2 separate regions of the Homo sapiens genome follow, and region 2 is linked to region 1. The links come from fine-mapping of genetic effects on gene expression. A gene starts in region 1. The other region holds a variant in brackets. All regions are shown on one strand. Distances are from middle to middle.

The links.
Region 2: its variant is fine-mapped to the expression of GNPNAT1 in whole blood (INTERVAL, PIP 0.96).

The regions. Positions count from the first base shown.
Region 1 is chr14:52,789,470-52,794,842 of GRCh38, forward strand. GNPNAT1 (glucosamine-phosphate N-acetyltransferase 1) reads right to left here and starts at 2,138. Exons shown (of 6, transcript NM_198066.4): 1 at 1,959-2,138. It overlaps LOC105370500 (a long non-coding RNA gene), which reads left to right and starts at 2,319. Exons shown (of 3, transcript XR_943867.3): 1 at 2,319-2,857. RefSeq lists enhancers at 1,365-1,454, 1,535-1,624, 1,732-2,245, 2,246-2,760 and silencers at 1,935-2,014, 2,115-2,334.
Region 2 is chr14:52,694,995-52,700,367 of GRCh38, forward strand. ERO1A (endoplasmic reticulum oxidoreductase 1 alpha) reads right to left here and starts at 564. Exons shown (of 16, transcript NM_014584.3): 1 at 374-564. The coding sequence starts at 487. RefSeq lists enhancers at 89-590, 196-245 and a silencer at 496-1,035. The variant G/C (reference allele first, on the strand shown) is at 2,152.

The DNA.
Region 1 (5,373 bases):
ATCTATTAACCAGGCAATCAGAAATTAACATCAAAAATTTTTTTATGAGCTATTCTACAAAACAGAGCCATACTGAAGGCCCACTTTAGCTCACTCTGTCCTCAAACCGTAAAATTCTGCTGGTGCCCAACTAAGGTACTGGGCAAAGTGAAGCAAGATATGACTTGAAACCTGGTTCCAAGGGGGTTTAGAACATAATTAAATAAGTAATTTTATATAAATAATCTTTTAGCATCTTCAGGTGCCCAGATATTGCAAAACTAGGAAATTTCTGCGAATAAAATTGCACAGTTGTGTGAAGCGGAATCTCATCATATCATTAGGTTCTTTAAAGTTTTTAGATGAACTTTAAACACTAATCCTCCTTAAGTATTCCTCAGAACCTTTTCTGATTAACTGCTAAATTAGCAGGCGTTTAGAAGACCCGTTTAAGCCTAACCCTAGCCCAATAATGCCTAGTGAATGAATAACGAATAAGACTTACCTGTAGGTCACATTTCAGAAAATCCAGAAGGACAAAAAAAAAAAAAAAAAAAAAAATTCCCAAACTGCCACAATATCGCGGAAAGCATACACCAAATTCATTTTTACTAGTCATCACATCAGTTGAATATTTTTTCACTCAATTGAATATTTTTTAAACAAAACTTCAACTATTTGGCGTCTGAGCCTCTGTATCAGGTTGGAATACGAATGGGGAGAGAGGCTGCTGCTAGAAGCAACCAACGGAGAGCAACAAGTAATAGACACCGGAGATGAAGATTTTAAAAGTCGATCTACAAATTTTAAAAAATACAATCTAAGGCCAAATCTAAACCAGCCTATGTATTTCTCAAGAGCTCCTGGGGAACCTTCTAAGTACAGGTGAATGGGGGAGGGGCGGACTTCGGATTCCTTTATATTCATTTTATAACAATTTCGATAACAAGAATCCATTCTGAATCTATTCCGTTAAAGATTTTTAACACACCTGGCCATATTTATTAAATTGTGTAACTGCATGAATGTTCAAAAGTATTTTCTGATAGTTTGACCTTTACAATCTAGGCGTTATTCCCAGTCTACCGATGAGGAAGCTGGAGCACCTGGAACTCCCAAGACTTGCCCCTTAGGTAACACAGCAAGTAAGTGACTTGGGGCTAGAATCCTCGTTTTCGCATCTTGAGCTCGATTACCATCCTCAACAGACCCCAATCTTTACATCATCATACCATACAGCTAGCGCTCTCTCCCCTATTTAGCAAATCCTGCCTAAATTAATTTCTTAAGATCCATTCTAGGATTCGTTCATGAGGGATTATCCTAACAAAACGAATCCTATAATCGCCCGTTCAATTTTGTATGAAAATTTTAAATTAGTTTGGCTTACATAAACATCAGCTCCCGCAACAGAAATCACAGTACAGTACTCGGTATTTCTAGGGGTAGGAGCCTAGGAAAAAGAGACAAAGAATGTCCCTCTGTACCCTGGGGAAAGCGCCGACCTACTCGGTGCGGAGGTGGTCTTCGGAGCAGCTGCCTCAATGGCTCCGACCACCGTGGGATGCGCCCGGGAATGGGAGAAGAGAAGGGGCCTGGGACGTTCGTGCCCATTCAAAACCGATGGCTGCAGAGAGCGCGACCAACTGTCTCATTTCCCACGCCAAAGTCTGGGGAGCGAAGTTCCGACCCCAGTCCCAGTTCCAGCCCTGCCAGGCCAAGACCAGCGTATGGCCGGACCGCTGGCCATCATCCTTAACCTCTGCTCCAGGCGCGCGTGCGTTCAACTTCCTGGGAACCGCGCTCCACACCATGTGCACCCAGCTGGCGAGGATTAACGCCCAGCTCCTCCACACAACACCCCCGGGGGCCTGGCCGGGGCACCAGACACACCTGTTAGATAAACCTGAGGGCAGGCCCGCCCCAGCCCCCAGGACACACGGTCCTGCTCTCGCGCCCCGGCCCCGGTCCCTCCTCACCCGTAGAGGCCCTGCGGTCGGCGCTCCTAGCCAGGCGCGTCGGACTCTCCCCCACCAGTGTGCACAGCACCGGATCCGGATCCGGCTTCAGCGCCAGCCCCACCTCCTCCTCCACCGCCCGCGCCACAGTTGGGAACCGCGGCCCAGACGTGGCAGCGCCAACGCCTCCACCTCGCCTCTGCCCCCTCACGCAGGGCCGCGCGCAGGCGAGCGGAGGCGGAGGCCAAGGCGCCACCCGCCCAGGCCCGGAGAGCGAGGGGCGGGGCCCGGAGAGCGGGGGCGGGACCAGGAGGGCGAGGGGCGGGGCTCGGAGAGCGGGGGCGGGACCAGGAGGGCGAGGGGCGGGGCCTGAGGCTCGAGTCGCGGCGCCTGGGGCGGTGGCCGCCGGACCAAAGCTGGCCTCTCCCGGCTCCTCCTCCTCGCTCCCCAAGGCCTTTCCCACCGCGTCATTGTCTCGGTTTATCTGCAGATACGTCTACCTAGCAGTCAGCCCAGCAGCGTAAGTGGTGACCAGTGTGGGCCTCTTTGATCCTGAGACCGAAGGCTCGGCCACTGGCCCTCTCCATTTGTTCCTTGTTGCCCTCCCTTCATGATTCAATCCATTAATTAGGACTTTTCCTACCAGCTGGCAGTTCAGAGCTCCGCATCCCCAGGCCTCTGAGTCACAGTTCCTGCCTTCATGAAACTAGGAGTTGGGGCCACTGCATTCTACTCCTTCGGGACTATTGTTTCATTTCTCAGTCCCTCAAACCCTTTATTGGATGAACATGGGGTTAGGACAGCGGTTCTCCACTGCAACAGTTTTGCCTCCCAGGAGACATTTGGCAATGTATGAATCATTTTCAGCCTCTCATCTGGGGTGAGATGTCATTGGAATCTACAGATGGTGGAGGGCACAGGTGAGTAGAGGCCGGGAATACTGCTTCACGCCTTACAGTGCGCAGGACAGCGCCGCACAACAAAGAATTACCTGGCCTGAAATGTCTGGAGTGCTGAGGTTTAGAAACCTTTCGTTAGGAGAAGAAAAGTGACTTTTTTCAGAGCCCCATTTCTGAAGTGTCTTACCTAAGTAGCACTTTGTCCCTATTTTAACAGATGAGGAAACAGAGGTTCAGAGATGTTACATAATTTACAAAAGTCTCATAGCTAGTAGCTCCCCTTCCTTGCCTTGTACCATAATTTTCAATTTATTGAAATCGCAAAGTATTTTATTCTTAAGCAATAGTATTCAAAGAACCCCATAGATCATATACCAGAAATCATATTTTTTGCTCATTTGTGAGATTTAAATTTCAGTTAACTCCTTTACTGATTTATGCTTTCTCAGAACTTCAAACATCAGTGAGTTGATGGCATCCATATCTCTGTTTTTATCTCTGTTTTTACACCCATACATACAAAAGAATATATAGGGCATGAGCAGAATGTGGTGGTATGCATCCGTAGTCCCAGCTACTCCAGAGGCTGAGGCAGGAGGATCACTTGAGCCCACAAGGTTGAATCCAGCCTGGACAATAGAGCAAGACCCTGTCTCTAAAAAAAAAAAAAAAAAAAAAAAGAATATGTAAGGCATAAATAAAATAAACACTCATGGCTGGGCGTAGTGGCTCACACCTGTAATTCCAACATTTTGGGAGGCCTAAGCAAGTGGATCTCTTGAGCCCAGGAGTTTGAGACCAGTCTGTGCAACATGGTAAAAACCTGTCTCTACAAAAAAAAATACTGAAAATTAGGCAGGCATGGTGGCATGTGCCTGTAGTCCCATCTACTCAGGAGGCTGAGGTAGGAGGATAACCTGAGCCCGGGAGGCAGAGGCTGCTGTGAGCCATGATTGCAAGACTGCACTCCAGTCTGGGCCACAGAGCAAGACCCTGTCTCAAAACAAACAAAAATTTAAAAAAATGCTTATGTACACACCACTAATCTTAAGCATATGGCCCTCCCCGTTTTTCTTATCAGACTTCTGGTCAAATGTTTTCAGTGAGTTTATCCTGTACAACAAACTGCTGTATGTTTTATAAATTAGCAAAAAGTGAAACATAAGCAATTCTAAAATCACAGAACACAAGGCTTGTAAGAGGTACCCCCAGAGATCTCATACTTTCCACATATACTCCTCCTTACCCACATTGGGCCATAAGAACCCAATTTCTCCTTAATAGACAAGGTCGATTACTCTGGCCAGTACAGTTAACCCCTTTCTTTGCCTGTAGGTTCACTTGGCAATGAGGAGCCCAAGATAACCAGGAGACAGTCTCAACTTCTGGTTTAATGGAACCATTGGTATGTCCTTTGGTTGATTTTTATTTATTTTTCTAGATTCTTAGAAGAAATGCTGCATTCACCATTATTCTTTTTTTTTTTTTTTTTTTTTTTTTTTTTTTGAGAGGGAGTCTTACTCTGTAGCCCAGGCTGGAGTGCAGTGGTGTGATCTCAGCTCACTGCAACCTCCACCTCCTGGGTTCCAATTAAGCAATTCTCCTGCCTCAGCCTCTTGAGTAGCTGGAATTACAGGTGCGCACTACCACACCCAGCTAATTTTTGTATTTTTAGTAGAGATGGGGTTTCACCATGTTGGCCAGGCTGGTCTTGAACTCCTGACCTTGTGATCCACCCACCTGGGCCTCCCAAAGTGCTAAGATTACAGGTGTGAGCCACCGCGTCTGACCAACAACAATATTCTCATTGGCACAAATAAGGCTATTACGTGGATAAACATAGATGTCAGTGATTGAGTTGAGAAGTGATTCAGGAACGTTGGCCTGAATGAGAAGTTTAAGAATACCTTGGCCGGGTACCATGGTTAACACCTGTAATCCCAGCACTTTGGGAGGCCAAGGCGGGCAGATCACGAGGTCAGGAGTTCAAGACCAGCCTGGCCAACATAGTGAAACTCTGTCTCTCAGAAAAAATACAAAAATTAGCTGGTGTGCTGGCACATGCCTGTAGTCCCAGCTACTCGGGAGGCTGAGACAGGAGAATCACTTGAAACCTGGGAGGCAGAGATTGCAGTGAGCCGAGATTGTGCCATTGCACTCCAGCCTGGGCAACAGCGAGACTCCATCCCCCCCCAAAAAAGAATACCTTAGCCAATTTATTTCATTTATATTTTCCTCTTAATGTTTGCACAGGAATTAGATATAACAATCCATGTCTAATTAAGTATAGAAGAGTTGTTTCACTAGGTATTACAAGTTCCAAGTGATAAGATATTATAATTTTAAATTAGCCACATTGTTTCTTTCTTAGTGGTATATAAATTAATGGCGTGTCATACAATGGATGTGTCTAAGATTGGATGAAATATGGTACAGGCCAGGCACGGTGGCTCACGCCTGTACCATTCCAGCACTTTGGGAGGCTGAGGTGGGTGGATCATGAGGTCAAGAGATCGAGACCATCCTGGCCAACATGG
Region 2 (5,373 bases), 94 kb before region 1:
CTGGTCAAGAGAGAAGTGAGAAAGATCCAGGTTCTGTGAAAATAGCAAATACTGGCAGGGCATTATACACTGTGCACACTCTCCCCGGGCAGATAAGACCAACAAAGATGCATAAACCCACTCAACCGCGTGCACCCAACCCCTCTCCTGGTCCGAGGCACCGGAGGGCGCGGCGACGTCCAGGCTGCCGTGGAGGCCCGGTCCACGCCAAGCCAGACTCAGTCCCGGCCACCGGGCAGCAGCACCGGAGTCTCATTCCCGGTGGGAAGAGATGCAAGGACGCACCCCCAGCCGCTCACCCGCCAGGGCGTGCGGGACAGTGCACGCCGCGGAGGGCGCCGGGACCCTCAGCACCAACGCGCACATCGCTCACCTGGCAGAAGCACCTCTGTGCCGCTGTCTCCGGGGGCTGCTCCTCTCCGTGGCCCGAGCTGAGCAGCCACACGGCGCCCAGGAGGCCAAACAAGAATCCCCAGCCGCGGCCCATTGCAGCTCCGGCAGCTTGTCGCCCCACGCTTGGGAGGCCAGTCCGCACGCTCGGTCGCGGGCCGTGCGCCCTCAGATGAAGCCCGTGCGGGCCGGCCCCAGCGGCGCCCCACCTCCGGGCCGCCTCCCAGGCCCGCCTCGGCCCTCCTGCCTCTCAGCGATCGCCACCTCGCGACCCAGCCTGTGGACGTGCCGCGGCGCCCGCGCCGGCAGCCCGGGGCCTCGGACCGGTTCCTTCCCGCCGCGTGAGGCTGACGCACCGACCAGCTTCCCGGCTCGGCCCCGCCCGGTCCGCTGCGCCCGCGCCCGTCCCCGCCCCCGGCTCCCTGACGCCCCCGGCCTGGAGACGCAACCCGACGCGCACAACCCCAGACCCTGCGCGGGAGTCGGGGGTCCTTCCAGTTCCCAGAGCGAGAGCGAAAGCCGGAGGGGCCTGTGTTTTCCTGCGGGGTTGGGGGGCGGGGGGTGCCCGCCCCGCGCCGCCCCGCCCAGCCCCAGCCCGCTCACTCCCGGCCAATCCTTCCGTATCTCAATGCGAGACAATCAAATCGTACGAATTACGTGTCCACCGTGTTCCCGGCGGAGTCTTAAAGCTGAAAGGGATATTAGAGAGCATCTAGACCAGGGCAGCATATGTCATTTATATTTTTAGTAGCCACAGCAAAAGAGTAAAAATAACAGGTACATTTTATTTTTAAAATATTTTTATTTAACCCCGAATGTGCAAAATATTATTTCAAAATATAACCAACATTAAATTTATTCATAAGATATTTGACTTTTTTTGTCTTTGAAATCCAGTGTGTATTCGATGCGAACTAGACCCATTTCATAGTCAAATGTGGCTGGCTAGTGCCCACTGTATTAGACAGCGAGGGTGGAAGCCACCCGCTCATATCATAGGAAGAAACAGGCCTAGAGAAGTGAGGTAAGGTGAGCAAGGATTGGAGGTCCTCTGATACCCAGTCCTGGTCTTTTAACATTCAGAGTTGGGACTAGTCTATCCGCTTTTTTTTTTTCCAGACAGGGTCTCCCTGGGTCACCCAGGCTGGCCTGCAATGATGCGATCGCAGCTCACTGCAACCTCGAACTCCTGGGCTCAAGCGATCCTCCCACCTAAGCCTCCTGAGTAGCATGAACTACAGGCGTGCGCCACCACGCCTGGCTAATTTTATTTTTAGTAGAAACGAGGTTTCACCATGTTGCCCAGGCTGGTCTCAAACTCCTCAAGAGCGATTCTCCCGCCTCAGCCTCCCAAAGTGCTGGGATTACTTTTTTTTTTTTTTTCGAGGCGGAGTCTCGCTCTGTCGCCCAGGCTGGAGTGCAGTGGCGTCATCTTGGCTTACTGCAATCTCTGCCTCCCAGGTTCAAGAGATTCTCCTGCCTGAGCTTCCCCAGTAGCTGGGATTACAGGCGTAAGCCACCACACACTCGGCTAATTTTTGTATTTTCAGTAGAGAAGGGGTTTTGCCATGTTGGCCAGGCTGGTCTCTAGCTCTGAGCTCAGGTGACCCACCCATCTCAGCCTCCCAAAGTGCTAGAATTGCAGACATGAGCCACCGCACCTGGCCTTACTTTTTGTTTTTTGTTTGTTTGTTTGTTTGTTGTTTTAAGAAGACTTTTTTTTGAGACACTCTCACTTCCTCACCCAGGCTGGAGTGCAGT[G/C]GCGCAATCTCGGGTCACTGCAACCTCCGCTTCCCGGGTTTAAGTGATTCTTACGCCTCAGCTACCCGAGTAGCTGGGATTACAGGCCTGCGCCACCATACCCAGCTAACTTTTGTATTTTTAGTAGACATGTGGTTTCACCATGTTGGCCAGGCTGGTCTCGAACTCCTGACCTTAAGTGATCTGCCTGCCTCTGCCTCCCAAAGTGCTGGGATTACAGGTGTGAGCCACTTCACCAAGCCTAAGAAGGTAGTTTCTAGGTGAAACTGGCAGCTTTCCGACATCTTGCATGCACATTAAAAGTTGAAATAGTTCAAATGACTTAAACTCATGTATTTTACTGCAAACCCTAGAGCTCTGCCTATCACTGCCAAGTAGACATGTAGTAAAAGTCAACAACCCATCTGAGATCCTGATGGACCTGAGAAGCTCTAATTCTAGTATCTACAACATGTCACATGTACATATTAATACAATCTCCCTCCTAACCTGAAAGCTTTTTTTTTTTTTTTTCTTTTTCTTTTTTTTTTTTTTTTTGAGATAGATTCTCACTCTGTCGCCAGGCTGGAGTGCAGTGGCGCAATCTTGGCTCACTGCAAATCCAGCTCCTGGGTTCAAGTGATTCTCCTGCCTCAGCCTCCTGAGCAGCTGGGACTACAGGCGCGTGCCACTACGCCCAGCTAAGTTGTTTGCATTTTTAGTAGAGACAGGGTTTCACCATGTTAGCCAGGATGGTCTCAACCTCCTGACCTCGTGATTCGCCTGCCTTGGACTCCCAAAGTGCTGAGATTACAGGCGTGAGCCACCGCACCTGGCCAAAAGCTCTTTTTCATATTCCTATATACAGGCCCCAGTTATCCTTTTTAGGGCCAGACCCAGGTCATGTTCTCCCTGTCTTAAGTCGTCTTCCTGGTTTCCTCCTAACCCAGTTCCAGTCTCTCAATGATTTCAATTCAGTAAACTTACTCTGTGACAAGCTGAGCTTGACATTTGGGATACAAAGATGTATAAGGTCCAGTTCCTACACTTGGAGAGACATCCATGGAACTTAGTATGTACTTTTTAAAAAATATTTAATTGACAAATAATAATTGTGTATATTTATAGGATACAATGGGATGTTTTGATCTATGCATACATTGTAGAAAGATTAAATAAAGCTTATTAACAGATACATTGCCTCACCAACTTTTCATTTTTCATTGATGAGAACATTAAAAAATTATTCTTTTAGCAATTTTGCAATTCTTATTAACTGTGGTCACCATGCAGTGCATTAGATCACTAAAACTTATTCCTGCAGTCTAACTGAAACTTTGCACTTTGACCAACATCTCCCCTTTCCCCATCCTCCCTGCCCACCGGCCTCTGGTGACTACCTTTCTACTGTTTCTATGAGATAAACTTTTTTAGATTCCACATGTAAGTGAGATTATGTGGTAATTGTTTTCTTGTGCCTGGCTTATTTCACTTGGTATCATGGCCTCTAGGTTAATCCATATTGTCACAAATTACAGAATTTCCTTTTTTTTTTTTTTTTTGAGACGGAGTCTCGCTCTGTCACCCAGCCTGGAGTGCAGTGGCACGATCTCGCTCACTGCAAGCTCCGCCTCCCGGGTTCACGCCATTCTCCTGCCTCAGCCTCCCAAGTAGCTGGGACTACAGGCGCGCCCGCCACCACTCCCGGCTAATTTTTTTGTATTTTTAGTAGACACGGGATTTCACCATGTTAGCCAGGATGGTCTCGATCTCCTGACCTCGTGATCCGCCCGCCTCGGCCTCCCAAAGTACTGGGAATAATTTCCTTCTTTATGGCTGTATAGTAGGCATATATATACAAGATTCTCTTTATCCATTCATCTGTCGATGAACACTTAGGTTGTTCCTATATCTTGGCTATTGTAAATAATGCAGAAATGAACATGGGAGTATAAGAAACAAATCAATGTTATGAAAATAGTCTGATTTTTAAAAAGCAGCAAAGGTTCTGAACAGTTATTTTTCAAAAAAAGACATACAAATAGCCAACAGGTATAGGAAAAAAATGCTTAATATCTCTAATCATCAGGGAAATGCAAATTAAAGACACAATGAGATGTCACCTTACACCTGTTAGAATGGCTATTGCCAAAATGATGAATGATAACAGGTGCTGGAAAGGATGTGGAAAAATGGAAACACTTGTACACTGTTGGTGGGAATGTAAATTAGTACAGCCATTTTGAAAAATAGTATGGAGGTTCCTCAAAAAACTAAAAATAGGCCGGGCACGGTGGCTCACACCTGTAATCCCAGCACTTTGGGAGGCCGAGGCAGGCAGATCATGAGGCCAGGAGATGGAGACCATCCTGGCTAACACGGTGAAACCCCGTCCCTACTAAAAATACAAAAATTAGCTGGGCGTGGCAGCACGTGCCTGTAGTCCCAGCTACTCTGGAGGCTAAGGCAGGAGAATTGCTTGCACCTGGAAGACAGAGGTTACAGTGAACCGAGATCGCGCCACTGCACTCCAGCCTGGGCAACAGAGCGAGACTCCATCTCACAAAACAAAGCAGACAAAAAAAAAACACACACACAACTAAAAATAGAATTACCATATGATCCAGCAATCCCACTTCTGGGTGTATATACAAAGGTATTAAAATTGGCGTGTCAGACTGGGCATGGTGGCTCACGCCTGACCCAGCACTTTGGGAAGCTGAGGCGGGCAGATCATTTGAGGTCAGGAGTTCAAGACCAGCCGGACCAACATGGTGAAACCCCGTCTACACTAAAAATACAAAAAATTAGCCAGGCATGGTGGTGTGTGCCTGTAGTCTCAGCTACACGGGAGGCTGAGGTGAGAGAATTTCTAGAACCTGGGAGGCGGAGGTTGCAGTGAGCTGAGATCATGCCATTGTACTCCAGCCTGGGTGACAGAGCGAGACTCTGTCTTAAAAATAAAAATAAAATTTGTATGTCAAAGAAATATCTGCACTCCCATGTTCATTTCAGCATTAGTATATAATCTTTTATGATATTTTCTACTTCATATTTCTTCACTGAATTGTAACATCTTTAAACTTCTTGAGCAGGGATTGTGTTTCAAATGTCCCTGAGACTCCCAGAGATCCTTAACAAGGATCTTGTCTTTGTACATGTTCGTGGAATAAATGAAAATCTTTCACTGGCCACAGTACTAATAAATGAAGATTAGGCCATCAAAAATGAGAAACACAATAA